Linked DNA regions of Homo sapiens: all the other regions are linked to region 5. The links come from fine-mapping of genetic effects on gene expression. A gene starts in region 5. Each other region holds a variant in brackets. All regions are shown on one strand. Distances are from middle to middle. Region 1 holds the start of EPS8L2 (EPS8 signaling adaptor L2). Region 2 holds the start of PKP3 (plakophilin 3). Region 3 has its middle 4.1 kb from the start of B4GALNT4. Region 4 holds the start of PTDSS2 (phosphatidylserine synthase 2). Region 5 holds the start of SIGIRR (single Ig and TIR domain containing).

Region 1 (5,097 bases), 290 kb after region 5:
CCCGGGTTCACGCCAGTCTCCTGTCTCAGCCTCCCGAGTAACTGGGACTACAGGTGCCCGCCACCACGCCCGGCTCATTTTTGTATTTTTAGTAGAGATGGGGTTTCACCATGTTAGCCAGGATGGTTTCCATCTCCTGACCTCCTGATCCGCCCACCTCGGCCTCCCAAAGTGCTGGGATTACAGGCGTGAGCCACCGCGCCCGGCCGGAGACAGGGTTTCGCTATGTTACCCTGGTTGGTCTTGAACTCTTGGGCTCAAGCAATCTGCCCACCTTGGCCTCCCAAAGTGCCTGGCCTCACTCCCCTTTTTTTAACCACACAATTTGTTCAAGGGTATGTTCTTGTACAAGATTCAAGGGGTGCAGAAGTAAAACATGGAAATTCGCCCTCCCCAGAGCTCACCTCTGTGGCCAGCGGGGTGCAGACTTCCAGCCCTCTGCGTGCTCATGGTCGTAACATGTGCACCTAAACACACGTGTTTGTGAAACATTGTCCTGCCGTGGGGAACGCAATGGGCACTTCCAGGGCGCTGTGCCCCTGCCAGGCTGGAATCTTGGGCCCCTCTTGTTCACATACAGATACACCCCTGATGCCTGATGTCCAGTGAGGAACCAAGGCTGCGGGGAAGGGTGGCCCCCACCCTTCCTCTTGTTATCAGGCCTCAGACACACTAGGAGGATGGAGGCGAGTTCTCTCAGCTGCCCATCCCACTGAGGGGTGCCCGGCCGTCAGTGTCTTGTCTGCACTTACGTCCCAGAACCTCTAGAGCTTGCCCCCCAGGGCGGGCACTGCTGGGAGGGTGCGAGCACCGCTGCGGCACAGAGGCCCGGTTCTTGGCTGATCTTCTGGGGCCTGGGCCTGCCCTGAGGTGGTGGGGACAGGGTGTGGCCTGGCCCTGCTGGGGGCTGCTAGGCCAACGGGACCCTCCCCAAGCGCGCCGCACACTGCAGGGTCTCCAGGCACCTGGGCTCAGCTAGTGACTGACCCATTTGTTTGCTAAATACGCAGTTTTGTTTTTAATACATACTCGTGAAATTTTCCAGAACTGGCCTTGGACCAGAGAAAAATACTTTGGGAATTTTTCAAAAAAATCCCTTCAGTTCCACTTGGAATTAGGAAAACGTGGCAGATGCACTTGAATCATTTTAGAAACCAAATTCACCCCCGCCCACACAGCCGACCCAGAAGACCCAGAGACAGATCAAACCATGCTGTTGCAGGGGCACCTCCCCCAGGAGGGGCTCACGCCTGTGTTGCCCATGCTCTCTGGCTCTCCTGAGTTCTGGGTGGCCATGGAGGCTGTTTCCCTGGAATTCCCCAGGCCCCGGAGGAACGTAGGGCAAGGAGCTGCTCTGGTCCCAGCAGCCCTCCAGGCACCTGTGGGCGGTGGGCTCCAGGGAGCGCCTCGCACCACCTTCCCTCCCCTTTGCTCTGTTCTCCAGGCACCAGGGGCAACCTGACAGAGGCTGAGAGGCCGCTGGCCGCCAGCCTGGCCCTCACGGCTGGCACCGCCCTCCTCTCTGCCCACTTCCTGCTTTGGCAGGCCCTAGTGTTGTGGGCGGACTGGGCCCTCAGCGCCACGCTCCTGGCCCTTCACGGCCTGGAGGCCGTCCTGCAGGTGGTTGCCATCGCGGCCTTCACCAGGTAGCTACGGACACCCGGGATACCCCACACTGGGGCCCTCCTCCTGGGCCTGACCAGTCCCCCAGCTGTCACCTCCCCATTCCTGGACAGGAAGGGCACTTTTCCTAGTGACTGGCCATAGATGGTTTTGGATGGTTCCATCTGTTCTGGCAGGAGTGGGAGCAGGAGCCAGGGCAGAACAAACTGCTGGAGGCCCTGGTGTTGGGAACAGCTGCGGGGAGGGTAGGGACCAGACAGAACTGCCTTCAAGATGAGTCCCAGGAGCGCACACTCAGCCCTGTCAGTGGGGTCTGGCTTTAGCAGCCAGGCCTCCACAGACCCCCATGGGCCCCCAGGGCCGAGAGGGAGGACAGAGCCCTTCAGAACAGAGGCCTCATCTCACTGCATCCCCCATCACCCCCTAGTTCCCCAATGGTCCTAATTTGTGTTCTGAGATCCCAGTTTACTCCGTGGCCAGGCCCCACCTGTGTTTCCAAGTCGGGCTGGAGACGCAGGATGGGGTAGGCCTTGTGCTCTGAGCAACCCCAGCTCTGCCTCACAGGCAGGCAGGCCCGGTGCAAGAGTGGACTCTGGGTTCCTAAAGCAATAAATGCAAACAAGCCAACAGCTCTGCTGCCTAGCA[A/G]TTTCCATCTTAGCCACACTTCTCCCTTCAGGGGCTTCGGAGGAGAGGTCAGGGCTAAGGCCGGGGATGAGACTGCAGGAGAGAGAGCAGCGGAGGGCCACATTCGGAGCCTCCGTCCACTCCAGTTTTATCAGCTTTTGCCTTTTGCACGGAGTGCTAAACAAATTCTAGCTCTGTGTTTTTTTCCCATTCCCAGATTTACTATCAGTTCTCCTTAAAAAGTATCTAAGCTGTTACAGTAGCTTTCCCTTCACTTGATTCTATTGTGTGTTTTCTATGTTTGGAATAATTACACCCAAATATCTAGATATTTTCTCTTCACCGCATTTTGTAAATAAAGAGATGTGTATGCCTCCCTGAATTCTCCTAATTATGGCCACCTCCCCCACCCCATCTCCAGTTCTCCTGCCCTGCAAGAGAGCACACCCCACTTGCCAGCTGGTCAGTTCCTGGCTGGCCTCGCCCTCGGGCCCTGGCTGCCGGGCGCCTTCCGCTCGGTGGACTCCTGAGGGCAGGAGGCTGCGGGACTGTCCTGGGCCTCCACTGGGGCTCCCTCGGCTGGGGTGGCTGTGGCTGTGGCACCTGGACAGTCTTTCCTGCCTGTCTTCGTGGAAGCGGTGGGAGCACCCAGTTGTCCTGGGCCGACTTCCTTTGACCTGTCTGTGGCCCCCAGTGGCCACGGTGAGCTGCAGGACAGCCCTGAGGACCCACTTCACACACCAGCGCCTGAGCGCCTCGGGCCACCTCCCTCACCAGCGCCTGCACTCGCAGAAGACCAGCTGGGCACACCTGCCATCTGGAGGACCCAGCCCACAAACCATGCAGACCAGGGAAGGACCCCCTCCCTGAAGCTGGAGACCTGTTGCCTTCATGGTTAATGGATCCTGATACCTCCAGTCTCAGCGAGCACACAAAGGCAGTGGTCACCTGTTCCACAGGGAACGCCATGGCTCCAGGTGACCCGGAGTGGATGGGGCCCGAGAGGCCAGCCTGGACTGTCTCCTGAGGGCAGGCTCCGCACTCAAAATCGTGTTGACAGGCACCCGTTTAGGAGTGGAGAGGGACCCCACCCCCCAGCTGTCCTCTCCAGCGCCTGTTTCCCACTTGGCCACTCCCAGCTCTGCCTCCAGGAAGGGTGAGGGCACGGGTGCACCGAGGGGTTGGCGTGTGTGACCCTGAGCTCTGGGTCAGGGCAAGCTCATGCATGGAGCAGGATCACGGCAGGTTCCTGGAGATCAAACGGCAAAGGCTGTAAACCAGGAAGCCAGGTCTTGCCTGGGCTCAGGGGCAGGCACTGGGCCCGAAGGAGGAGGGCCACTTCCTGCCAGCCCTCCACCGAGCTCACCTATGGCGCCTCCCCAGGAAGTGCTCCGGCCAGCCCAGGGTAAACACGCTAGCCCTGCCCCTCTGGGACCATAGCCCGGGGACCCAGACTCTTGGCCACGCTCATTCCCACCCCTACCCAGGACCGGCAGCCGGAGCCTTGGGTCCCTGCATGGGCCTGGGGCGCCCTGTGCCCCTTCACCTCGTCCTCGTCCAGTTGACTGCTGTGGCAGCCGGTGCTACCCGCTGTGTCCACTGCACCCTGGCCCTGTTCTGAGCGGTCACAGCAGCTGGGGAGAAGGGCCATCCTGGAAGCCGGGCAGATGAGGACGGAACCAGACAGTCCCACTGTGGTGGGCAGAGGTGGGGCCTGGGCCTGACCACGGGGCAGTGCAAGGAGAGAGGCATCCTGAGAGGGCCTGAGGTGTCCCCACCTCCCCTGACACCCCATCCCTCAGTGCCCAGGCTGGGCAGAAAGGGGGGCCTGGAGGAGCAGCTGCACTGTGAACTCAGGGCTCCAGGCCTGGGGTGGGCATGGCTGGGTCCTGCCTGACACCCACCCACTCACCGAAGCCTCTGCCCCTGGGCCTGCGGTGGGCCCGGTAAGGGAAGTGACTCTGCCCCATGCCTGGGGCACCTGAGGGGTGCACCTGGCCCGGCGGAGGCTCTGACCTCCCCAGGGCTGGAGCCCTCCCCAGCAATGCGCCAGCGCTGCCCCCGAAGTCCCATTGGCAGCGTTCCCCCGTCCCCCGGCCTGCTGGGGCGCAGCTAGGCCCTGCCCAAGGAAGAGCTCGAGGCCTCGCCCTGCTCATCCCGCGGAGGCGGCCCTGCGCCCCGCCTGTCCCCAGCGCCCCAGCTCTAGGGGCTAGGCCCGCGGAGGGGCACACCAGGCGGGTGTTGGGGAGGACGCAGAGGGCTGGGGCTGGAGCCCAGGCGGGGCAGGGGGCGGGGCGGAGCTGGGTCCGAGGCCGGCGGGGGCGCCTCCATCCCACGCCCTCCTCCCCCGCGCGCCCGCCCGCTCTCGGGTGACTCCGCAACCTGTCGCTCAGGTTCCTCCTCTCCCGGCCCCGCCCCGGCCCGGCCCCGCCGAGCGTCCCACCCGCCCGCGGGAGACCTGGCGCCCCGGCCGAGGCGCGAACAGACGGACGCACCGGCGAGCGCCGAGGGGACAGGCCGAGCGCGGGGCGCCGGAGGCAGGTGAGCGCTGCGGACACGGGGGAGCGCGCCCGCCCGGGCCTCAGTTTACCCGGTGGCGATGGGACGCGGGGCTTCTGGTTCAGGACACCGGGACGAACGCGGCGTCGCAGGGCGCGGGGCACTTGGAGGGCGGCCGGGCCGAGGGCGCGGGGCAAGGGGCTGGGGGCCTGGTCGAGTCCCCACCTCTCCTGGACGGGTCCTGCTGCAGCCCGGCCTGCCCCCGTCGGTCCTGGGCGGCGGCCGGCGAGCAAGGATATTTTTAAGCCAGCGATGGGTGACTCACCTGCCCCGTCCTGCCCACTCCCAGCT
Region 2 (5,097 bases), 24 kb before region 5:
CTATGCAGTTATAAGAACGATCAAAGACTTTAAGACTTTCACTATTTCTTCTACCGCTATCTACTACGAACTTCAAAGAGGAACCAGGAGTACGGGAGGAGCATGAAAGTGGACAAGGAGTGTGATCATTCAAGCACCACAGGGAGGGGGTTAGGCCTCCGGATGACTGCGGGCCAGGCCTGGAGAATATCCAGCCTCCCACAAGAAGCTGGTGGAGCAGAGTGTTCCCCGACCTCTCCAAGGAAAGGAGACTCCCTTTCGCGGTCGGCTAAGGAACGGGTGCCTTCCCAGGCACTCGCGTTACCGCTTGACCAAGGAGCCCTCAAGCGGCCCTTATGTTGGCGTGACAGAGGGCTCACCTCTTGCCTTCTAGGTCACTTCTCACAACGTCCCTTCAGCACCTGACCCTATACCCACCGCTTATTCCTAGGTTATATAGTAATGGAACAAAGAGTAATATTAAAAGCTAATGACTAATAATGTTTATAATAATGATTGATAATTGTCCATGAGCATCTCTATATCTAATTTGTATTATGACTATTCTTATTCTATTTTCTTTATTATACTGAAACAGTTTGTGCCTTCAGTCTCTTGCCTGGGCACCTGGGTCATCCTCCGCCCACAGGGGACCGCTGGAGGACAGACCATCCCTGGAGACGTGGGTTGCCGGACCTCGGGCCAGTCTCCCAAATGGTACAGCAGGACTGATGGGTCCCCAGCCTCCTCTCCCCAGCTACAGTCGTCCAGACCACCATTGCCATCCAGGAACCCCAGGGATTGTAGGGGTCAAGGGAAGGAGGATGGACCTCGTCCTGGACTCCAGAGTTCTCCTCTCCAATCTGGGCCCCCCTCCCCATCTCTTGGCACAACTGTGAGTGGCATCTCAGGCCTCCTTCCTCCACCATGTCAGGAATCAACACAGTCTTGTGAATACAGGGACCTCTCCATGGAGGGGTTAGCTTTTTTCCTTTCAGAAGGCACCTTCTTAGGCCAGGCCCCCGATTCCCAGGACTTCCCTCCTCCGCCTTGTTTGAGGAGGACCTGGCCCCACAGCGCCACCTGTTTATAACAGGAAAGCAACAGGAGCGGCCGCCACCTGTTAGCAGCTGCAATTTGGTGAGGAACACTTGGGGCTAACTGAATGGGTCCACACACCGTCCTGAGGCCAGACCCCAGGAGAACCCCCGGGAGATGCCCCGCCTGCCTCAGACAGACGCCCCCTTCCCCAGAGGAGCGCCGGGGTCCTGAGGCCAGACCCCAGGAGAACCCCCGGGAGATGCCCCGCCTGCCTCAGACAGACGCCCCCTTCCCCAGAGGAGCGCCGGGGTCCTGAGGCCAGACCCCAGGAGAACCCCCGGGAGATGCCCCGCCTGCCTCAGACAGACGCCCCCTTCCCCAGAGGAGCGCCGGGGTCCTGAGGCCAGACCCCAGGAGAACCCCCGGGAGATGCCCCGCCTGCCTCAGACAGACGCCCCCTTCCCCAGAGGAGCGCCGGGGTCCTGAGGCCAGACCCCAGGAGAACCCCCGGGAGATGCCCCGCCTGCCTCAGACAGACGCCCCCTTCCCCAGAGGAGCGCCGGGGTCCTGAGGCCAGACCCCAGGAGAACCCCCGGGAGATGCCCCGCCTGCCTCAGACAGACGCCCCCTTCCCCAGAGGAGCGCCGGGGGCATAGCAAGAGCCCGGGACTCGTCTGATGAACGAACAAGTAGTGGACGGACAGATGGACAGACTGACCAACAGGCCGGCAGTGGACGGGGTGTGTGCAGATGAAAGGTGTCCCCCCCAAGAGCCTACAGGGGCCATACCCCTCAGCTACTTTCCATGCCAAGGACCAAGGCCAGAGACCTCAGAGCTGCCCCAGCCACAGGCGCGGGGCAGGGGCCACACTCCACAAGGTGAGGGGTGGTGCCCATGGGCAGCCGGGCAGGCTCCGTGGAGGGGCTGGACTTGGCTGGAGCCCAAGTCAGAAGGTTTGCAAGCGTGGGCGCCAACAGGAAGCGCCAGGACGCTTGCCTCTGGGTGAGCTGTGCCCCCACGCCGGGTCCATCAACCACCAAGGGGCTCCCCTAATGCACTCCGAACCCCGCCCCTGCAGGC[G/A]GTGGGACCTGAGGCAGCCTCCCAAGCCTCTCTGTGCACCGGCTCACTCCTGAATTCGGCTTTGACTATATTTTGCTTCCAACGTCCTCACACCTTTCTCCCCAGATCCTCCCCCTTCTGCTCCTTAAGACGACCACCCCAACCCCCTCCACCCACGCAGGCTCTGCCCTGGAGGTTTGTCTTCTGTGCCCTCCCACAACTCCGGGCACGCACCTGGCAGCTCTGCCCACGACCTGGGCCCAGCCGACCTTCTCTGTGAGCGCCTCCCGTGCCCCCCACGCTGAGCCCACCATGCCCCGAAGCCCTCCTGCGCCCTCTCCCACCGCCTCTTGGGAGGTGACTGACAGGCCACACCCCACCCAGGACCCATCTAAGAGCAGCGCTCACTCACCCTTCGAGGCCCTCAGGTTCCAGGCTCTCAACCTGATTGTGCACCCAAGCGGCCCGAGGCTCCGTGCAGATTCCGGGCCCCACAGACAACCGCTTCCTCCAGGAAGCCTACCGTCAAGCCCCCCTCCAGGGCTCCTGTGTCAGGAGCTGGCTCCAGGGAGAGTGCGACCCTCAGGGCTGGTCACAGGGATCAGATGAGACTCCGCCGAGCCTGGAGCTGGAAGCTGCAGCGGTGGCCTAGCAGGCATCGCCATCCGTCTGGCCCGGCCGCAGTGAGGGAAGGTGCACCCCAGATTCCTGGCTTTGCCAAAACTGTGCCTGGCGGGCACCACGCATCCTCAGGGAGGCGCCGCAGCTCTGGGGGGGGGCACCCACAGCCCTCTCTGCCAAGGGGAGGAGGGAAGGTGGGCAGAGTCGGCCCTGGGGGCCCTGCAGGCCGCGGGGTACCGGCGTTCCCATCATAGCTCCAGCCGCACGGAAGCCCCTTCACTGAGTCCTCTTGTGAGCCCTTCGGCCTGACTGGGCTGCAGAGGCCCTCCAGGCTGGCTTCCCCCTCATGCCGCCCAGCCTGGCCCCTGCAGGGCCCCAGGTGGGCCTGGGGTGGACCTGGGTGCAGGGCGGGACCCAGCCCATGCCAGGCACATACCTCCAGGCCCGCTCTGCGCCGCACAAACTTGTCTCCCAGGATTTTTCCACACGAAACCTGTCTCCCAGGGAATCAGCCAGTCCGATGAGCTGGGCGTTCCCACCCCGCCCTCCGAGGCCCCCACAGTCCTGTCCCCGCCGCAGAGGCTGCCCCGCACGCGCCGGGCCAGGGATGGAGTCCTGGACACCTCGGCCGTCAGCAGTGGCCTCTGGGATGAGCTGGGAGGCTGGCGGGATCCGGACCACGAGCCGGGTAGGTCTCCCACCCCTTCCCCACCACCCCGACCCCACCTGGTGGCCCCAGCCCGGGCCTCACCCATCCTTTCAGTGGACCTTCCCCTCCCCCTTTAACCCCCCACGCTGACCTCCGACTCCTACTCTCCAGCTTCCTCCCCTCAGAACTGACCTCACCCTTAATGCTGCCTCCTAACCCTGACCCGGCCCTCACGCCAGACCCCTGCCCCAGCCCCATTAAGGCAAAAATCTTCCAGGGACGGAGCTAGGGGGCAAGGGTCTGCCCTGGAGGAGAGCCCAGAGCCAGGGTCCAGGGTCCAGGGAGAAGCAGAGGCTGTCCGATGAGCTCGTGAGAGAAGCCCAGAGGTTGTCATAGATGTTCAGCTCCCACCCCCAGCCCTCCTAGGCTTATCCCCACCCCCATCTACCAGGGGCTTGTCCCAGAGGCTAGAGGGCCTCAGAGCCCATTTGCTGGCTGTGGTGCTAGAAGGAGACCTTCTGGGCACAAGCCCTGCTTGGTCCAGGGCCCCCCCACCAGGGGCCCCCCACTACCCCACCCCCACCAGGGGCCCCCCACCCTCGCTCCCTCTCCATCCAGGCCTCTGCTCTTCCAGACCCCTGGTTCTTCCCTGCACACCCGCTCCTGCCCCAGCCTGACATGCGCTGACAGGAGTGCAGGCCCTCTGAGTCAACCCCCTGGGGCGGCCCCGCCCCCCTGCACCCTGACTCATGTGCTGGGAACGGCCTCCCACCCCAGGGCCTGGGGTGCAGGAGCAGTGGTGCCAGGGTCCCAGAAGCCAGAGAGGGTTTTGGAGGCCTCTGTAGGGGGTGAGGGGGTCCTGGGGGTGAGTTCCAGGGTCTGCAGGCTTCGGGGGAGGGCCGGTCCATCCACATGCTTCCTGGTGCGGAGGGGGCTCGCTGGATTCCAAGGACCAGGGCCAGGGCCTCCATGGAGTCCCGTTGGACCCTAAAGCTCTGTCCCTCCAGCCTTTGTCCTGATCCCTGGCACTGACCCCTGACTCCCGACAGTGTCTCCTGCCAACCCTTCCTAGGCCTCATCCCCACCTCACCAGGAAGGCTGGGCTACCATGGAGGCTGGCTGATTCTTGGAGCTACCTAGGGCCCTAGACCCCCAGGGACTGGGGCACCCTCCCCTTCATGCTGGGGGTGGCAGGACATAGGCCCCCCGCAGGCCCCCTGCCCTTCCCTGACACTCAGGACACAGAGGGCCCCTCTGTCCCAGCCCCACGACAAAGGGCCCGGTCTGGCCTTTACAGGCTGAGAACAAGAAGGACCCAGGTCCCCGTGGCCCTGTTGTGGGATGGGAGAAAAGGAGGCGGGAGGCCAGGCTGGGACCTGGGGCCATGCAGGGCCTGTTCTTCCGCCCAAATTCCACCTTAAGCAGGCGGCGGCCCCTCCCTCCCACCTGGCCAGGTGTCCCCGCCCCCAGCTGCGCTCAGGGCTGGGCAGGCGTCTGTCTTCAGGCGGCTCTGGGTGAGGCTGGCTGGGCGGGGACTTCAGGGAGAGGGCCTCGAGGGACAGGACGTGAAGATAGTTGGGTTTGGAGGCGGCCGCCAGGCCCAGGCCCGGTGGACCTGCCGCCATGCAGGACGGTAACTTCCTGCTGTCGGCCCTGCAGCCTGAGGCCGGCGTGTGCTCCCTGGCGCTGCCCTCTGACCTGCAGCTGGACCGCCGGGGCGCCGAGGGGCCGGAGGCCGAGCGGCTGC
Region 3 (5,097 bases), 50 kb before region 5:
GGGGCCACGTGCCACATGGGCTGCTCGGCCACTTGGGCCACATGGCCAAGCACATCCAGTGCTGCTTGAACTGTGTCGAGCTTCTGGCTGGACCTCTGGTTGGCCTCTGCACTGACTTTCAGCAAAGCATTGCCACCATCTGGAGACAGGTGTCCCAGGGTCCACCATCTGGACATAGCTGTTGCAGCCCACGCCATCCGGAGAGAGGTGTCCCGGCCCCCACCGTCCGGAGAGAGAGCTCTCCCGGCCCCCACCGTCTGGAGAGAGGTGTCCCGGCCCCACCATCCGGAGAGAGCTGTCCCGGCCCTACCGTCTGGAGAGAGAGCTGTCCCGGCCCCACCGTCTGGAGAGAGGGGTCCCGGCCCCCACCGTCTGGGGAGAGCTGTCCCGGCCCCCACCGTCTGGAGAGAGAGCTGTCCCGGCCCCCACCGTCTGGAGAGAGAGCTGTCCCAGCCCCACCGTCTGGAGAGAGGTGTCCCGACCCCACCGTCTGGAGAGAGGTGTCCCAGCCCCACCGTCTGGGGAGAGGTGTCCCGGCCCCACCGTCTGGAGAGAGAGGTGTCCCGGCCCCACCGTCTGGGGAGAGCTGTTCCGGCCCCACCGTCTGCAGAGAGGTGTCCCGGCCCCACCGTCTGGAGAGAGCTGTCCCAGCCCCACCGTCTGGGGAGAGGTGTCCCGGCTCCCACCGTCTGGAGAGAGCTGTCCCGGCCCCCACCGTCTGGAGAGAGAGCTGTCCCGGCCCCACCGTCTGGAGAGAGGTGTCCCGGCCCCACCGTCTGGGGAAAGCTGTCCCGGCCCCACCGTCTGGAGAGAGAGCTGTCCCGGCCCCCACCATCCGGAGAGAGAGGTGTCCCGGCCCCCACCATCTGGAGAGAGAGCTGTCCCGGCCCCCACCGTCTGGAGAGAGGTGTCCCGGCCCCACCGTCTGGAGAGAGCTGTCCCGGCCCCACCGTCTGGAGAGAGGTGTCCCGGCCCCACCGTCTGGAGAGAGGTGTCCCGGCCCCACCGTCTGGAGAGAGCTGTCCCGGCCCCACCGTCTGGAGAGAGGTGTCCCGGCCCCCACCGTCTGGGGAGAGCTGTCCCGGCCCCACCAGGCTCCAGATACTGAGCAGGGCCAAGGGCCACATTCTTTTTTTTTTTTTTTTTTTTTTTGCACAGGATCTTGCTTGGTTGCCTAGTCTGGAGTGCGGTGGCATAATCACAGGTCTGCAGCCTCGACCTCCCAGGCCTCAGCAATCCTTCCACCCCAGCCTCTCGAGTAGCTGAGACTACAGGTTTGCACCACACCTGGCAAATGTTTGTGTTTTTTGTAGAGATAGGGTCTCCCTGTGTTGCCAAGGCTGGTCTCGAACTCCTGTGCTCAAGCGTCCTCTCCCACCTCCACCTCCCAAAGTGTTGAGATTACAGGCATAAGCCGCCGTGCCCAACCCCAAAGGCACATTCTAACGCCTGGGCTGCCATCGTGCACTGGGTGTGGTCGGACCCACCAGCCTCAGGGCTGGGTGTGCACAGCAGATGCCACCGACGGAAGTGGTCTACACGTGGTCAGCTCAAACAGGTCCTGGGGGCCCTGGGAAGCCAGTGGAGGAGGTGGGTCCTGAACAGGCATGAACAGGCAGCTCCCCTCACTCTGCCTCATCTCTCTGAAATACACCACTGGGTCGTGAGGCGTTCCCTCGGACCAGATGACTCAGAAAGCACAATGCAGCCCTGGTCACAGATGGCTCTGCCTAATAAGCTGGCACCACCCCGAAGTGGGCGCCCCAGCACGGCAGCGCCACCTGGGTGTGGGAGGCCAGGCCTGCACGACAGGTGCAAAGGCAGGTCCTCACCTGGGTGTGGGAGGCCAGGCCTGCACGACAGGTGCAAAGGCAGGTCCTCGCAGGGCCGAGCAGCAAGCAGGATGGAGGAGGAGGCAGAGTTCCGTGGAC[G/A]CCCCGGCCACGGCCGACCGTCTAGCTGATGGCCAGGCACTTGGAGGGGCACGATTACAAAGTTAGAGATGAAACGGTCGGGGTGAAGGTATGTAGACAGACCTCTTGGGGTGGGCAGAGCATAAAGAATTTGTGTGCAAAGACCTGTCTCAGCAGAGGAGGGACCCTAATAGTCAGACGGACAAAATGACCCATTTGTGCGCATCAGGCAGCCTCTTTCCCCAGCTCCCCTTGTCCTGAGTCGGGCCAAGTGGCTGTAGCAGTGGGAAGCGGATTACCCTGGGCACCGCGCAGCCAACAGCGGAGACCAACACTGGCCCCTTCCTCCACCATGGAGGATGCTTGTCCCAGCAGGATGGGCTCCCACCCCAGCTGTGGATGGTCAGTGCCCTCAATGCCTCTGCCCAAACCACCACCCCACACATTCAGAGCTCCTCGTCCACCCACGGGGTGCTCCTCATGGCGGCATCGCCATTGTCCTGGGGACAGCAACCGGCCGGTGCTCCTGGAACCCACAGATCTCGCCGTGTTCCTGATGGAATGGCCTTTGGGAGGCTCAGTTTTGGCACCAGCTGAGTGACAATGCTGTGGATCTGGGGTCCTCTGGATGCAGCGGATCCACTGAATCAGCACTTAATCTCTGGCTTTTCCCAAAGCCGGGGCTCACTGGTCCAGGCGTGGAGGAGTGGAAACCCCAACTTCTTCCCATTGTCGTTAATCCCCAGTGAGCCACAAGTGAAAGTTTTGCCCCCTGCAGTGTTGCACGCTGTTGGTCTAGAGGCCTCAGATTCCCAGGGACCAACTCATCCCAGTTTGCTTAAGACTTTGCCGGTCTTATTTTCATTTTTTTATTTTTTATTTTTTTGAGGCTCAGTTTTGCTCTTGTTGCCCAGGCTGGAGTGCAATGGCACGATCTCGGCTCACCACAACCTCCGCCTCCTGGGTTCAAGCAATTCTCCTGCCTCAGCCTTCCTAGTAGCTGGGATTGCAGGCATGCACCACCATGCCCAGCTAATTTTTTATTTTTAGTAGAGACGGGGTTTCTCCATGTTGGTTAGGCTGGTCTCGAACTTCCAACCTCAGGTAATCCACCTGCCTCAGCGTCCCAAAGTGCTGAGATTACAGGCGTGAGCCACCGCGCCCAGCCGACTTTCCCAGGTTTAAAACGGAAAGTTCCATGTCCTAGGAATCCCCTCGGTCCTGGGAAAGCCCTGGAGTGTTTCCACCAGGGGACACGTTACGCAGGAAGCTGAGACTGCCCACCTGGACGCCGGTTCCTCACACCAGGGGGTCGACAAAGAAGAGGGTCCCTGTGCTGGTCCGGCTGACTGAGCCCAACAAGGGGAACTTGGAACCTGATCACAGAATGGGGCTAAGGGGGAGAAATTTGGGAGGCAGGAGATCGTCTGTAATATCACGTAGCTCCTCTAAGCCTTGCAGAAAACACCACTGGAAAACCAGAACCACCCCATAAGGCAAAACTGCTAACAGCATAGGCCTTTTGGGAAGGAACGTTTGGGTCACCCCACCAGACAGTGAACCACGACCAGCAGAGGTGCTTGCAGAGGGCAAAGGGACCACGCAGGAGTGACGGAAGAGCGTGGCCATAAAGACTGTACCAGCCACGACCTGGTGACCGTAGAAGTGAGTACTTCTTATCCTCACACAAGTCACACTTGTACTGACATTATCCGTTCTTCCTGCTTTTTTCCTCTTCCATTGCCCTCCTAGCTGCATAAAATGCGTTAACAACAGTTAACTTTACATTTCATCTCAGTATTTGTGTCATCCAACCCCCAACATGCACTTTGCAGTGTCAAGTGTTAAACGCTCTTAGAGAAACTAGAAGAACGAGGATCGTCTTCTCAAATGTGGATAACATGACACGAACCTTTTGTTCAGTCCCTTCTGGTTGGAATATTTGCATCATGTTACGTAGAAGCATGACTTTGTTTTTTGCTTTATTTGGAAGTTAAATGTGTTTTTTAAAAGAAGTGTGCGTCTGTGCTGAGTTGTCAAGAGGAGGAACCTGCCAGGTTGTTCTCTCTTTTTTTTTTTTGAGACCGAGTCTCGCTCTGTCACCCAGGCTGGAGTGCAGTGGCGCGATCTCGGCTCACTGCAAGCTCCGCCTCCCGGGTTCACGCCATTCTCCTGCCTCAGCCTCCGAGTAGCTGGGACTACAGGCGCCCGCCGCCACGCCCGGCTAATTTTTTGTATTTTCAGTACAGACAGGGTTTCACCGTGTTAGCCAGGATGGTCTCGATCTCCTGACCTCGTGATCCGCCCGCCTCGGCCTCCCAAAGTGCTGGGATTACAGGCGTGAGCCACCGCGCCCGGCCAGGTTGTTCTCTTATTCTAAGCTGGAGACCCATTTCCCAGAACCTTCTCCTCTGTGGCTGGGTCACACCGAAGTGAGGCGGTGGCCGTTCTTCTCCAGAAGGGGCCGAGACGGATGTGGTAGCATATGGAGCATCTGCGTCCGGCAGATCCCAGCTCGCCCCTCAATTGTACCTACTATGCTTTGGATCCACAGGGGACACCCTCTGACTGTGGACCCATGAAGTGTCCCAAACACGTCTCTCCCGACATTGCCAACACTTGCCTTCTAAGAACCTGTTTACGGGTCAGGCCAGCCGTTGCCTCCCCAGAGAGCGACCCTGGAGCGGGAGCCGGCCTCCCTCCATCACCCAGCTCATCTCCTTCACGTCACTCACCACCAGCAAAGCGACTATGCGTTCACTGGTCTGTCCCTGCCTAGTAACATGTAAACTCCATGAAAGGAGGGCCCTTTTCTGTCTTGCTCACTGCTGTGTCCCCTAAGTCCCTGGCTCGTCAGGACACTAGAATACTAGGTAGCGTCCACTGGCTGGATGAATGTGCCTAGGATGGGGTGCCATGCAGTGGAAAGAGGGAAAGCATTAGACGCACAGCCAGACAGATGCACATAGAAAATATGGGACTTGGAGAAACAGAATGAGACACATAAAAGAGCACCACTGGCCGGGCACAGTGGCTCACGCCTGGAATCCCAGCACTTTGGGAGGCCAAGGCGGGAGGATCACTTGAGCCCAGGAGTTCAACGCCAGCCCGGGACACATGGTGAGACCCTGAATCTGTTAAAAAAAAAAATACAAAAAATTAGTCCGGCATGGTGATGCATGCCTGT
Region 4 (5,097 bases), 33 kb after region 5:
ACGAGCAGACTCGTCCAGGCACTGCTCAGAGGCAGCCCCTCTGGGTCAGCTGGAGTCGGTGCCTCTGAGAACCTGCCCCTGTACTCTCTCTGGGCTGGTCTCAGGCACCCTGCTGGCTCCAGCCTCTCTTGGCTGACAGTGCTTGGCAGGCGACCCCCAGCCTGAAGCCCCTGCAGGGGAGACCCTCTCCCAGCTGGGCCTCTGCCCTTGAGGACCACCTGAAGCCATCCTTGCCTGCCACACCAGGGTGGCATTGGGGTGGGGACCCAAACCCCTCCCGTCCTCATTGCAGGGACAACTCTGTCTCCTTGCTGCCTCCCCAACACCTCCAGGCCTTAACCATCTTGACTTGGGGAGCAGTCCTGCTGTCCACGCTCCCTCCAACAAGCCAGAGAAAACTCCCGGGCACAGGTGTGCGTGTGGCACGGTGAGTTTTTCTGTAATCCACTCACCTTTATGGATTTACCGCACCAGGGGAAATATTACAACAGGCATTTGTTACTTTACAAATTCCTAGGCTTCCTCTCCCTTCCTTGCAAGGGCATTTTTAGAAAGCATTTCGCCAACATTCACTATTTACCACCATAAATGTGACTCTGGCCAGCTCTGTCCCTGGGTAAGGCCAGAATTGACCATTTTCTTAAAAGTTCCAGCGCCCTGAGGCTTCTGGCAGGCATCTCTGCAGCTGAGGAAGGCTTCTGTCCCGTGCACCCTTCCCCAGGCGGGGGACCCCCAGTTCTGCTGCTCTGGGGCCTCAAAGAACCAAGTCCTCCAAGCTGCTCCACTGCCTCCTCACCAGCCACGGTGCTCCCTGAGCCACAAACCTCCGGCCTCACCCCTGCCCCTCAGGCCCACGTCTTGCAATGGACTCTGCCAGTCCACACATGCCTGGGTGGGGAGGGGTGTGCACTTCTGCAGCTGGGGTGAAGACAGGGACAGGGTAATGTGAGACTCAGATATGAGACGCCAGGTGCAAAACTGCAGGTGGAGAGCTCCCTGTAGAGTGCAGGGGTTCAGGGTAGAGGCTCTGGGGTCTGGAAAGAGCTGGGCGTAGCTGTCACCAACCTTTCTCTGCCTCAGTTTTTTTTTTGTTTGTTTCTTTTTTTTTTTTTTTTTTTTTTTTTGAGACGGAGTCTTGCTCTGTCACCCAGGCTGGAGTGCAGTGGCGTGATCTCAGCTCACTGCAAGCTCTGCCTCCCAGGTTCACACCATTCTCCTGCCTTAGCCTCCCGAGCAGCTGGGACTACAGGCGCCCGCCACCACGCCCGGGTAATTTTTTGTATTTTTAGTAGAGATGGGCTTTCACCGTGTTAGCCAGGATGGTCTCGATCTCCTGACCTTGTGATCCACCCGCCTCGGCCTCCCAATGTGCTGGGATTACAGGCTTGAGCCACCGCGCCCGGCCTTCTCTGCCACAGTTTTTTTGTCTCTAAGCGACAGTCAAAAATAGAACCTAAGGGGGTGTGTTAAGATCACAATAGTTGGCCCGGCGCGGTGGCTCACGCCTGTAATCCCAGCATTTTGGGAGGCCAAGGTGGGTGGATCACCTGAGGTCAGGAGTTCGAGACCAGCCTGGCCAACTTGGTGAAACCCCGTCTCTACTAAAAATACAAAAATTAGCCGGGCGTGATGGCGGGCGCCTTTAATCCCAGCTACTCCGGAGGCTGAGGCAGGAGAATCGCTTGAACCCGAGAGGCGGAGGTTGCAGTGAGCCGAGATCACGCCACTGCACTCCAGGCCTGGGTGACAGAGTGAGACTACGCTTAAAAAAAAAAAAATCACAATAGTTAGCATTTACAAAGCGTTGGGAATTCTACTTGGCACGTGGCCAGAGCTCCGTAGTGATGGGCAACGAACACGTGGTCTGCGCGCCCGGGGCCGCGCGGTCTGGCGGGGCCGCGCGGTCTAGATCACGCTACTCCGGGTCCCAAGGCCCCGCCCTCAGGCCCCGCCCACAGACCATGTCCTCGGCCCCGCCCCTCACGCGCCCTTGGGCCCCGCCCCCGAGCCGACAGGAACGAGCGTCATTGCGAGGCGGCCTCGCGCGCAGCTTCCTTGGGGCCAGGGACCCCAGTGGGGCCGGTAC[A/ATCTCCCCGCCCCGGCC]TCTCCCCGCCCCGGCCTCTGCACCCTGGAGGGACGGCAGGAGGGCTCTCTGTGCAGTTTGAGAGAACACCCATACGCAGGAAATGACCCCAACGCCACCGAGAGGGCGCCTGGAATGTGAGCGCCACCTGCTGGGATGGGAAGAGGTCTGGGAGGGGACCTGAAGGATGGTTCACAGGGAACCAGGCCTGTCGGGTGATTGCTGGAAAGATGGCATGGACGGGAGCTGGCTGCTCTGGCCACTCAGCCGACCCCAGCTGGACGCGGCCAGGGCCTGGGGCAGGGGGCCAGGCCTGGGGAGGCCCAACAGCACGCCCCCTGGAGCCAGCGCCTCCCGCACTGCCCAGCCTGTGTGTCAGGAGCTGGGGTGAAGGTCCCATCACAGTCAGGCCCCATCCCTGCTGGGCGTGGCTGTGCAGGAGCCCCGCAAATATGTTTATATATTTAGTATGTGAGTTATATTTCAATAAAGCTGATATGAGATATACTTCACATATCATGCAGTTCACCCATTCAACTCGTTTCGAGTGGACAGTTGAGTGGTTTTTAGGACATTCACAGATAGGAGCTGAGGTCAATATTACAGCACTTTCATCGCCCCGAAAGAAACCTGCTACCCTTTGTAGTCGCTCCTTATTACCCCTTCCCCAGCCCCCGGTGAAAACTCATCTAATTTCTGTCTTCATAGATTTGCATTTCCTGGACATTTCATACAAATGGATCACATAATGCGTAGTCTCCTGTGACTGGCTTCTTTCACCTAGCATTTTTTTTTTTTTTTTTGAGACGGAGTCTCGCTCTGTCGCCCAGGATGGAGTGCAGTGGCACAATCTCGGCTCACTGCAACCTCCACCTCCCGGATTTAAGGGATTCTCCCACCTCAGCCTCCCGAGTAGCTAGGATTACAAGCGCCCGCCACAATGCCAGGGCAATTTTTGTATTTTTAGTAAAGATGGGGTGTCACCACTTTGCCTAGGCTGGTCTCGAACTCCTGACCTCAAGTCATCCGCCCGCCTTGGCCTCCCAAAGTGCTGGGATGACAGGCGTGCGCCGCCGCGCCCGGCCTGCCTAGCATAATGTTTTCAAGGTCCAGCTGTGCTGTAGCATGCGCATGCTTCGCTCCTCTATGGCTAATAACATGCCGCTATTATCAAAATGCTGCAACTAGGAGCGCTAGTGTGTAAATTTGGCGTGGACACTTGTTTCCAGGTTTGAGGAGCTGCCACATTGCTTTTCAGAGTGGCTCAGGAGCTAATTTTTTTGCAGGGTACCATGTCAACAATTTGGGTCAACTAAAATCAGCGTGTCCGCACCATTTTCGCCCGCCCAATTTCACGCGATCCTGCGAAAGAATGACCCAGACCGGTCCGGGCGCGGTGGCTCGCGCCTGTAATCCCAGCACTTTGGGAGGCCGAGGCGGCAGATCACAAGGTCAGGAGTTCGAGATTGGCCTGGCCAACATAGTGAAACCCCGTCTCTACTAAAAATACAAAAATTAGCCGGGCGTGATGGCGGCCGCCTGTAATCCCAGCTACTCGGGAAGCTTGAGACAGAAGAATCGTTTGAATCCGAGAGGCGGAGGTTGCAGTGAGCCGGGATCGCGCCATTGCACTCCAGCTCGGGCGGCAGTGCGAGACTCCGTCTCAAAAAGGAATGACCCGGGTCGCATGGGGTGAAGGGTCGGGAAGCGCCCCAAAAGGAGAACGGGGCTGGGCTCCGGGATCCGTCGGCGAGGAAGGGGCGAAGGGGTGGAGGGACTCGGGCCAGGCCGCCGGGGATGTCTGTGGTTACCTCCAAGCTCTGGAGGCCTTGGCGAGACCCGCGCCATCCGCAGCTTGGTTCCTGCGACCTCAGCCGCAGGGCGGTCCGGCTCCGGTTTCCCAGCAACCAGGCGTCATCCTTCCCAGCAAGCACTGCGTCCAACCCGCGACGTCGGACCACAAGGCCCAGCATGCCCCGCGCGGACTACAAGCCCCACAATGCACCGCACACCCTTTACTGGCCGGCCCCGCGCTGCTCTCCTAAGACCCCGCGGGCCAGCGCCGCGACCCCTTCCCAGCGCTCCTCGCGCTGTGTGCGGCGCGTCCTCTCGCCGGTGACCCGGTGTGCGTGGGGTCGAGGCGCCGGGCGGAGTGGCTCCGGGCCGAAACGCCATGCGGAGGGGCGAGCGCAGGGACGCCGGAGGTCCGCGGCCCGAGTCCCCGGTGCCCGCGGGCAGGGCCTCGCTGGAGGAGCCGCCTGACGGGCCGTCTGCCGGCCAAGCCACCGGGCCGGGCGAGGGCCGCCGCAGCACCGAGTCCGAGGTCTACGACGACGGCACCAACACCTTCTTCTGGTGAGGGCAGTGGGCGGCCGCGGGGCGGCGAGGGTGCCCTCGACCTGGGGGTTCCGGCACCGCTGGCCTGGGGGTCCCCGGCAGCGCCCTCTCGCCGTCTTGGAGTCCAGGACTGTGGCCGGGGGTTTGAGGGTGTGGCAGCACCGCCCCCCGGGTCCCGGGGAGCGGCCGGACCGAGCTCCCGACGCCGGGTCGGGCGGAGGGCGGCGCTGTAGGTGGGGGAGACCCTGGGCAGACCCTCCCTGCGGCCGCTTTGCGTCTCTCTCGCCGCCCTCCCCACCCCTGCCCGCCTTGGCTCTGACCGCGCGGTTCTGCGATCCAGACCCCTTCCCCGCCACCCGCCTCCAGCGTCACCCCAGAAACGCTTTCTCTGTCCTGCTGTCGAAGCTTCACCTGTGTCCCCCGTCATTCTGCCTGTGGTTGCTCCTCAGTGCTTGCGGCTGCACGAAATCATCTTGTGTGTCGCGCCCGACCCCACGTGGCGATCGTGTTGATTAGCAGAGTGTTGTGCGTGCTTCAGGAATGTAGTCGGTGTTCGTCGAATCCAGGCTCTGTTTCTCTCCTCAGTTGCCCCTAGCGGGGCCAGCGCCTCCTCCCTGCACAACTCAGCCCTAGCTACACCTTGGGGTCCCCCTGTCCGCCACTCTGCCTTTAATGGGGGTGGAAAAGGAAGAGG
Region 5 (5,097 bases):
CTTCCTTGGCAGCCCAGGGCCCCAGGGGCCTCTCCTCACTGGATGCCACAGGGTCACCCTGTTTATCCAACAGGCACTGACTGTCTACTCCCCTCCCTGCTGCAGGGACACAGTGGAAGTGGGGATGTGGGGATCAAGCCTAAGTTTCTGCACCCCAGCTCCCTCAGGATTCCTCCCCGCTAAGGCCCCAGAGGCAGTGGCAGGGACAGTCCTCTTAGCCTGCCACCTATTCCCTCTCCATGGGTGAAGCACAGCCAGAGGCCCCAGGTTTGACTGTTTGGCAGTTTCCTCGGGAACCGATACAGCATGAGGCACACACCCATGGGGGATGGCCAGGGGGTCCTTGAAGAAGTCCTTTGCGGTGGAGGACACTCCAAGGAAAGTCCTTGACCCAGGGGAACCACCCACTGAGGGTCCTTAAAGCACACACTTCCCAGGAAACCAACCCCTCACAGCAAGCCCGGGAGGTCACACCGCCAGCCCAGCAGAACCCCTGGCATCTCCTGCAGTGCTTCCGTGACCGCCCCAAGCTCAGACCTCAAAGTCCTCCCTCCAAAAGCAGCCTCAGAGCCTTCTGGAAGTCAAGGGCAGACTGCCAGGATACGAGCACAGCAAGAAAGCAGGTGCCCTCCCCTGCAAACCCTCCTCTGCACCCTCTCCGCTGCCTGCCTCTCCTTGCACCCTCTCCCCTGCACCCTCTCCCTGCAAACCCTCCCCTGCACCCTCTTCCCGCACCCTCTCCCCTGCTCCCTCTCCCCTACGCACCTTCCCCTGCACCCTCTCCTCTGCCTGCCTCCCCCTGCACGCTCTCCACTCCCCACCTTCCCCTGCCCACCTTCCCCTGCACCCTCTCCCCTGAACCCTCTCCTCTGCCTGCCTCCCCCTGCACCCTCTCCCCTCCCCACCTTCCCCTGCACCCTCTCTTCTGCCTGCCTCCTCCTGCACCTTCTCTCCTCCCTACCTTTCCCTGTACTCTCGTCTGCCTACCTTCCCCTGCACCCTCTCCCCTCCCCACCTTTCCCTGCACCCTCTCCCCTGCACACCTTCCCCTGCACTCTCTCCTCTGCCTACCTTCCCCTGCACCCTCTCCCTCCCCACCTTTCCCTGCACACCTTCCCCTGCACCCTCTCCTCTGCCTACCTTCCCCTGCACCCTCTCCCCTCCCCACCTTTCCCTGCACCCTCTCCCCTGCACACCTTCCCCTGCACCCTCTCCTCTGCCTACCTTCCCCTGCACCCTCTCCCCTCCCCACCTTTCCCTGCACACCTTCCCCTGCACCCTCTCCCCTGCACCCTCTCCTCTGCCTACCTTCCCCTGCACCCTCTCCCCTCCCCACCTTTCCCTGCACCCTCTCCCCTGCACACCTTTCCTTGTACCCCCTCCCCTCCCTAACTTCCCCTGCACCCTCTCCTCTGCCCCTCCTCCCCTGCACACATCACATACACACAGCCCTCTGGCCCATGTGCACCTGCACAGAGCTTCAGTCTCAGCCCGTGTGCACACTTGCACCTCCTACACAGCACACTTCCTACCACACACACCTCCCATTACCACTGCACACAGCTTAGGCTGCAGACCCCTCACACAACTGTTGAGTATATACAACACCCATTGCAACGCTTGTCACAGAGCCTAGGACCACAGGCACCCCACAGCACACACACTGCACCTGACACCCACCCTTGGCCGCTGATGCGACACAGCCTCCTGCTGCCCCTCGCTCTGTCTCACACACACATGCACACACATGCATATGGGTCTTGGGCGCCGTGGGCCTCCTCTCAGCCAGGCCCTGACACAGGCTCACTCAGAGCAGCGGGGAAGGCAGTCACCTGGTTCCAGTTCTTTCCTCCGGGGGGCAAATGTTGGTCATTGGTGCGCCTTTGGGAGCAAACTCTCCCCTTCGCTGGGCCCCAGGGAGTGTCCACAGCACCAAGGCTGCTATGGATGCATCGCCAAGCGCGGTGGGGACCTGGCTTGTGTCTTTGTGTATTTTGATCAGAACTTTCCCTGTAGCTTCCTGGCCTTGCAGTCACATCCTCTCCTAACCCTAAACCCCACCCAGGCACCCACCCCTTCCCTAGGCGGGCGGGAGGACGGGCAGTTGGTGGTTCTCACCCCGCCTGCCCCGGCTCTTCCTGTAGCTCTGAGTCAAGCGGCTCCTTCCTCTGGAGCCCGCCCCAACCCACCCAGGCACGGCACTTTCCTCTGTGCAGCGTGTGTGTGTGTGTGTGTGTGTGTGTGTGTGTGTGTGTGTGTGCAGTGTGTCTGCGTGTGTGCAATGTGTGTGCAGTATGTGCGTGTGCGTGCGTTTGTGTGTGTGCGTGTGTGTTGTGGGGTGGGGGGTGCTCAAAGGGGCAGGTTCCAGGGGTAATGCATGGGGGGTCCTCCAGCCAGGAGACCCCCGCCAGGGCCACCCTGCACACATACAAGGAGGACCGGGGACCGCGCGGCATGCCTTCCAGACGCTACTAGAGCTCACACTCAGGAGCCAAGGGGCCGGTTTGCTCCCCCATGTGTCTTTGACCTCTGACCCCGGGGAACAGGGCCTTCAGAAACTCCCGGTCAACAATGGGGCTCCAGCAGAACTCTTCCGCCCTCTCCCCGTCCCTCTCCCAGACATAGCTCCCCCGATGGGTGAGCAGTTACAAGGGACTATGGCATCTTGTGGACCTTCCCTTCAGGCTGGGGTGGGAGGGCAGCGCCCCCTTTTCCAAATAAGGAGCAAACACAGGTGGCCGAGGCTCCTGGCTCAGAGCAGATGAGGGGCAGATGGCATCTCCTGTTGTCACCAAACTGACACTCCCCAGGTTGACCTGGGACTGGGGACCCAGTGACCGGTGGCTGGTATTGCCCACAGAATCAGACAAGGGTCTCCTTTGGACCCTGGCCCTGCCCTCAGCCACATGGGGGCAGGGCTTCATTGTGGAGGGCTGCCATCCAGCCTCCCGGCCCTGGCTGAGCACCCTCTCAGCAGCAGGCTTTCTACAGGTACTTGTCTGACTGAGTCCCAGCCCTGCTAGGACCTTCCTTTGTCCCGGTACTCAGCCTTGGGTGATGGTGGGCCTTGGGCTCAGGGTCCCAAAGACAGCACCCCTTCCCCCACAGAGCCTGGTACCAGCCCCTCCTTGAAGTGGGTCCTTGGAAGCCCCTCAAGAAGGTTCTCCCCACACTGCAGGTCAGGAAGCAGGCACAGCAGGGCCCAGGGCACCCCCGCAGGAAGCAGGAGCAGGGCCTCCAGCACAGGCCCTGGGGTCAGCCGCCAACTGTGAAGCCCCGGCTCGGCGGCTGCTCTGTGCACCCGGTCTCAGCGTCACCATCTCTCAGGGCTGGCTTGGCACCCTCTCCTTCCCTCTCTCTGCTAACGTCCTGCACCCCCGAGCCCCCAGGTCCACCGTCCAGGGTGAGCATGAACACCCACAAAGTCTCCGACCCTCGCCCGCACAGCTCTTCCGAGGCGCCCAGAATCTCAGTCCAAGCCTGGCCCTGGTCGCCTCGCACTGCCCACCGCACTCTGCTGGGCACCTTGAGGTTCTTAGAAAGCGCCAGCTCCTCCCGCCCTCAGACCCAGCCAGCGTCCTCGGTCCGCGGCCGCCCCTGCCCGGTGGGTTCGACGCTCAGCACCCAGCACCCTGCGGGCGACTCCCGCTCAGCTCGGACGCGCCGCCCCTCCGCTCCCCGTGCGCGCTGGGCCCCCAGCGCCTGTCCTGAAGCAGGAACGTGGGTAAAAGGCTGCGGCCCCGCAGGCCGAGGGGCTCTGGTTCGCTCCCCTACCCCGCGCCCACCTGCGCCCTGGGCGCCCTCCAAGTGAGGAGGGCGGAGAACGAGGACGCGCGCGGGAGGCGGGCACGGGGGTGCGGCTCGGGGCGCTCGGCCGGGGCAGAGGCGCGCGGATGGCGGAAGCTCCACCCGGCGCCGGGCGAGCTCGGGCCCCAGCCTGACTCTTGGTCCGCCCTCGGCGCCTCAGGAAGCCTCGAGCTGGGATCCAGGCTTGGGCGACCGAGGTGGGATCCCTGCGCGCCTCGGCGCTCCTAGCCCCGCTCTGTTCTGCGCGAGGGTCACCAAAAAGCCGCTGACCACGTCGGGCAGAGGAAAGGGTGGCCCCCGCCCCCTTCGCCCACTTTCCTCCCTTCCCCCAGCCCTGGAAAGGGCCAGGACGCGGGCGAGCTCGGGCTTCCGGGCGACGCGGGAACCTCCCCGGCCCCGAGCCATTTCCTGAGAGACCGCGCCCAGGGACAAGCAGCGCCCCGGGCCCCGACTCCAGGCCTGCAGCGGCTCTGGGAGGACTGCGACCTCCACTCACCTTCGCGGGTCTGATGGCGACCGCCACTCACCTGCTGCCAGGACCTGGGGCTCGCGCCGGGCGGGGGCGGGGCAGCTCACCTGAGCCAGGTGCGCAGCGGCAACAGCCCCGGCGGCGGCGTAGCCCCGGCAGCGGCAGCAGGTGCGGCCCCGCCCCGCAGTCAGGGCGGGGGCGGACCCCAGCGTCCCGCTCTGCGCCCAAGGCTGGCGCTGGAGGCTGCGCTGCTGCCCGGGAGCCGCTGCCGCACGGGCCTGGGGCCAGTGGCCAAACCAGCCCAACCAGCGCGCAGAGCCCCGGAGCCCCAGAGCCTTGGGGACTCTTCGGAGCGTCCACCGCCCTCAAGGTTTTGCGCGTCCGCCCCTATCTCTTCCCTTTCCTCCAGGAAGCCTGCCTTGACCCCCACCCCACCCTCAAGTGGCCCCGATGTCTTCTCTTGCCTCCCTCAACACCCCAGGTGCAGGGACGGGGAGAGGACCCCATAGGCGCCCCTCCCTTGGAAGCCCATGGAAAACTGGAGAAGGGACAGGCGGCCTGAGGCGGCCTCACCTGGTTCCAGACGTTCCACACTCCGGGTCTGTTTCCCATCTAGCCCTGAGGGCAGATATAATCCACCCGGGACCCAGCGAGGCCAGGAAAGCAAGACAGACAGGCTTAATTTTACTGCAGAAACGGGTTGGCTGAAGGGAACAGGCCAGCGAGGTGGGCTCAGGACACCCCCAACAGCCAGGATGGGGGCACGGCAGGATCTGGCGCCCAGAAGTCAGAGGGAGGCCCAGGAAATTTGCGCCAGTTTT

The links.
Region 1: its variant is fine-mapped to the expression of SIGIRR in lymphoblastoid cells (GTEx, PIP 0.92).
Region 2: its variant is fine-mapped to the expression of SIGIRR in whole blood (TOPMed, PIP above 0.99).
Region 3: its variant is fine-mapped to the expression of SIGIRR in esophagus muscle (GTEx, PIP 0.99).
Region 4: its variant is fine-mapped to the expression of SIGIRR in prefrontal cortex (GTEx, PIP above 0.99).

The regions. Positions count from the first base shown.
Region 1 is chr11:701,501-706,597 of GRCh38, forward strand. TMEM80 (transmembrane protein 80) reads left to right here. Exons shown (of 5, transcript NM_001042463.3): 5 at 1,445-2,629. The coding sequence ends at 1,650. It overlaps EPS8L2 (EPS8 signaling adaptor L2), which reads left to right and starts at 4,731. Exons shown (of 21, transcript NM_022772.4): 1 at 4,731-4,788. It also overlaps a transcript of DEAF1 not described here. RefSeq lists an enhancer at 2,644-3,571 and a silencer at 4,548-4,677. The variant A/G (reference allele first, on the strand shown) is at 2,269.
Region 2 is chr11:389,320-394,416 of GRCh38, forward strand. It overlaps PKP3 (plakophilin 3), which reads left to right and starts at 4,890. Exons shown (of 13, transcript NM_007183.4): 1 at 4,890-5,097. The coding sequence starts at 4,974. RefSeq lists an enhancer at 4,343-5,097. The variant G/A (reference allele first, on the strand shown) is at 2,102.
Region 3 is chr11:362,864-367,960 of GRCh38, forward strand. No RefSeq gene overlaps it. Among named protein-coding and RNA genes, the nearest start is that of B4GALNT4, 4.1 kb to the right of the region's middle. The variant G/A (reference allele first, on the strand shown) is at 1,932.
Region 4 is chr11:446,217-451,313 of GRCh38, forward strand. PTDSS2 (phosphatidylserine synthase 2) reads left to right here and starts at 4,063. Exons shown (of 12, transcript NM_030783.3): 1 at 4,063-4,421. The coding sequence starts at 4,240. RefSeq lists enhancers at 1,691-1,830, 3,563-4,249, 3,848-4,127 and silencers at 1,841-2,130, 2,221-2,530, 4,158-4,397, 4,588-4,647, 4,658-4,747. The variant A/ATCTCCCCGCCCCGGCC (reference allele first, on the strand shown) is at 2,087.
Region 5 is chr11:412,991-418,087 of GRCh38, forward strand. It overlaps SIGIRR (single Ig and TIR domain containing), which reads right to left and starts at 2,009. Exons shown (of 10, transcript NM_001135054.2): 1 at 1,833-2,009. It overlaps ANO9 (anoctamin 9), which reads right to left. Exons shown (of 23, transcript NM_001012302.3): 23 at 4,948-5,097. RefSeq lists an enhancer at 2,482-3,101 and silencers at 3,622-3,691, 3,752-3,871, 3,902-3,981, 4,192-4,241.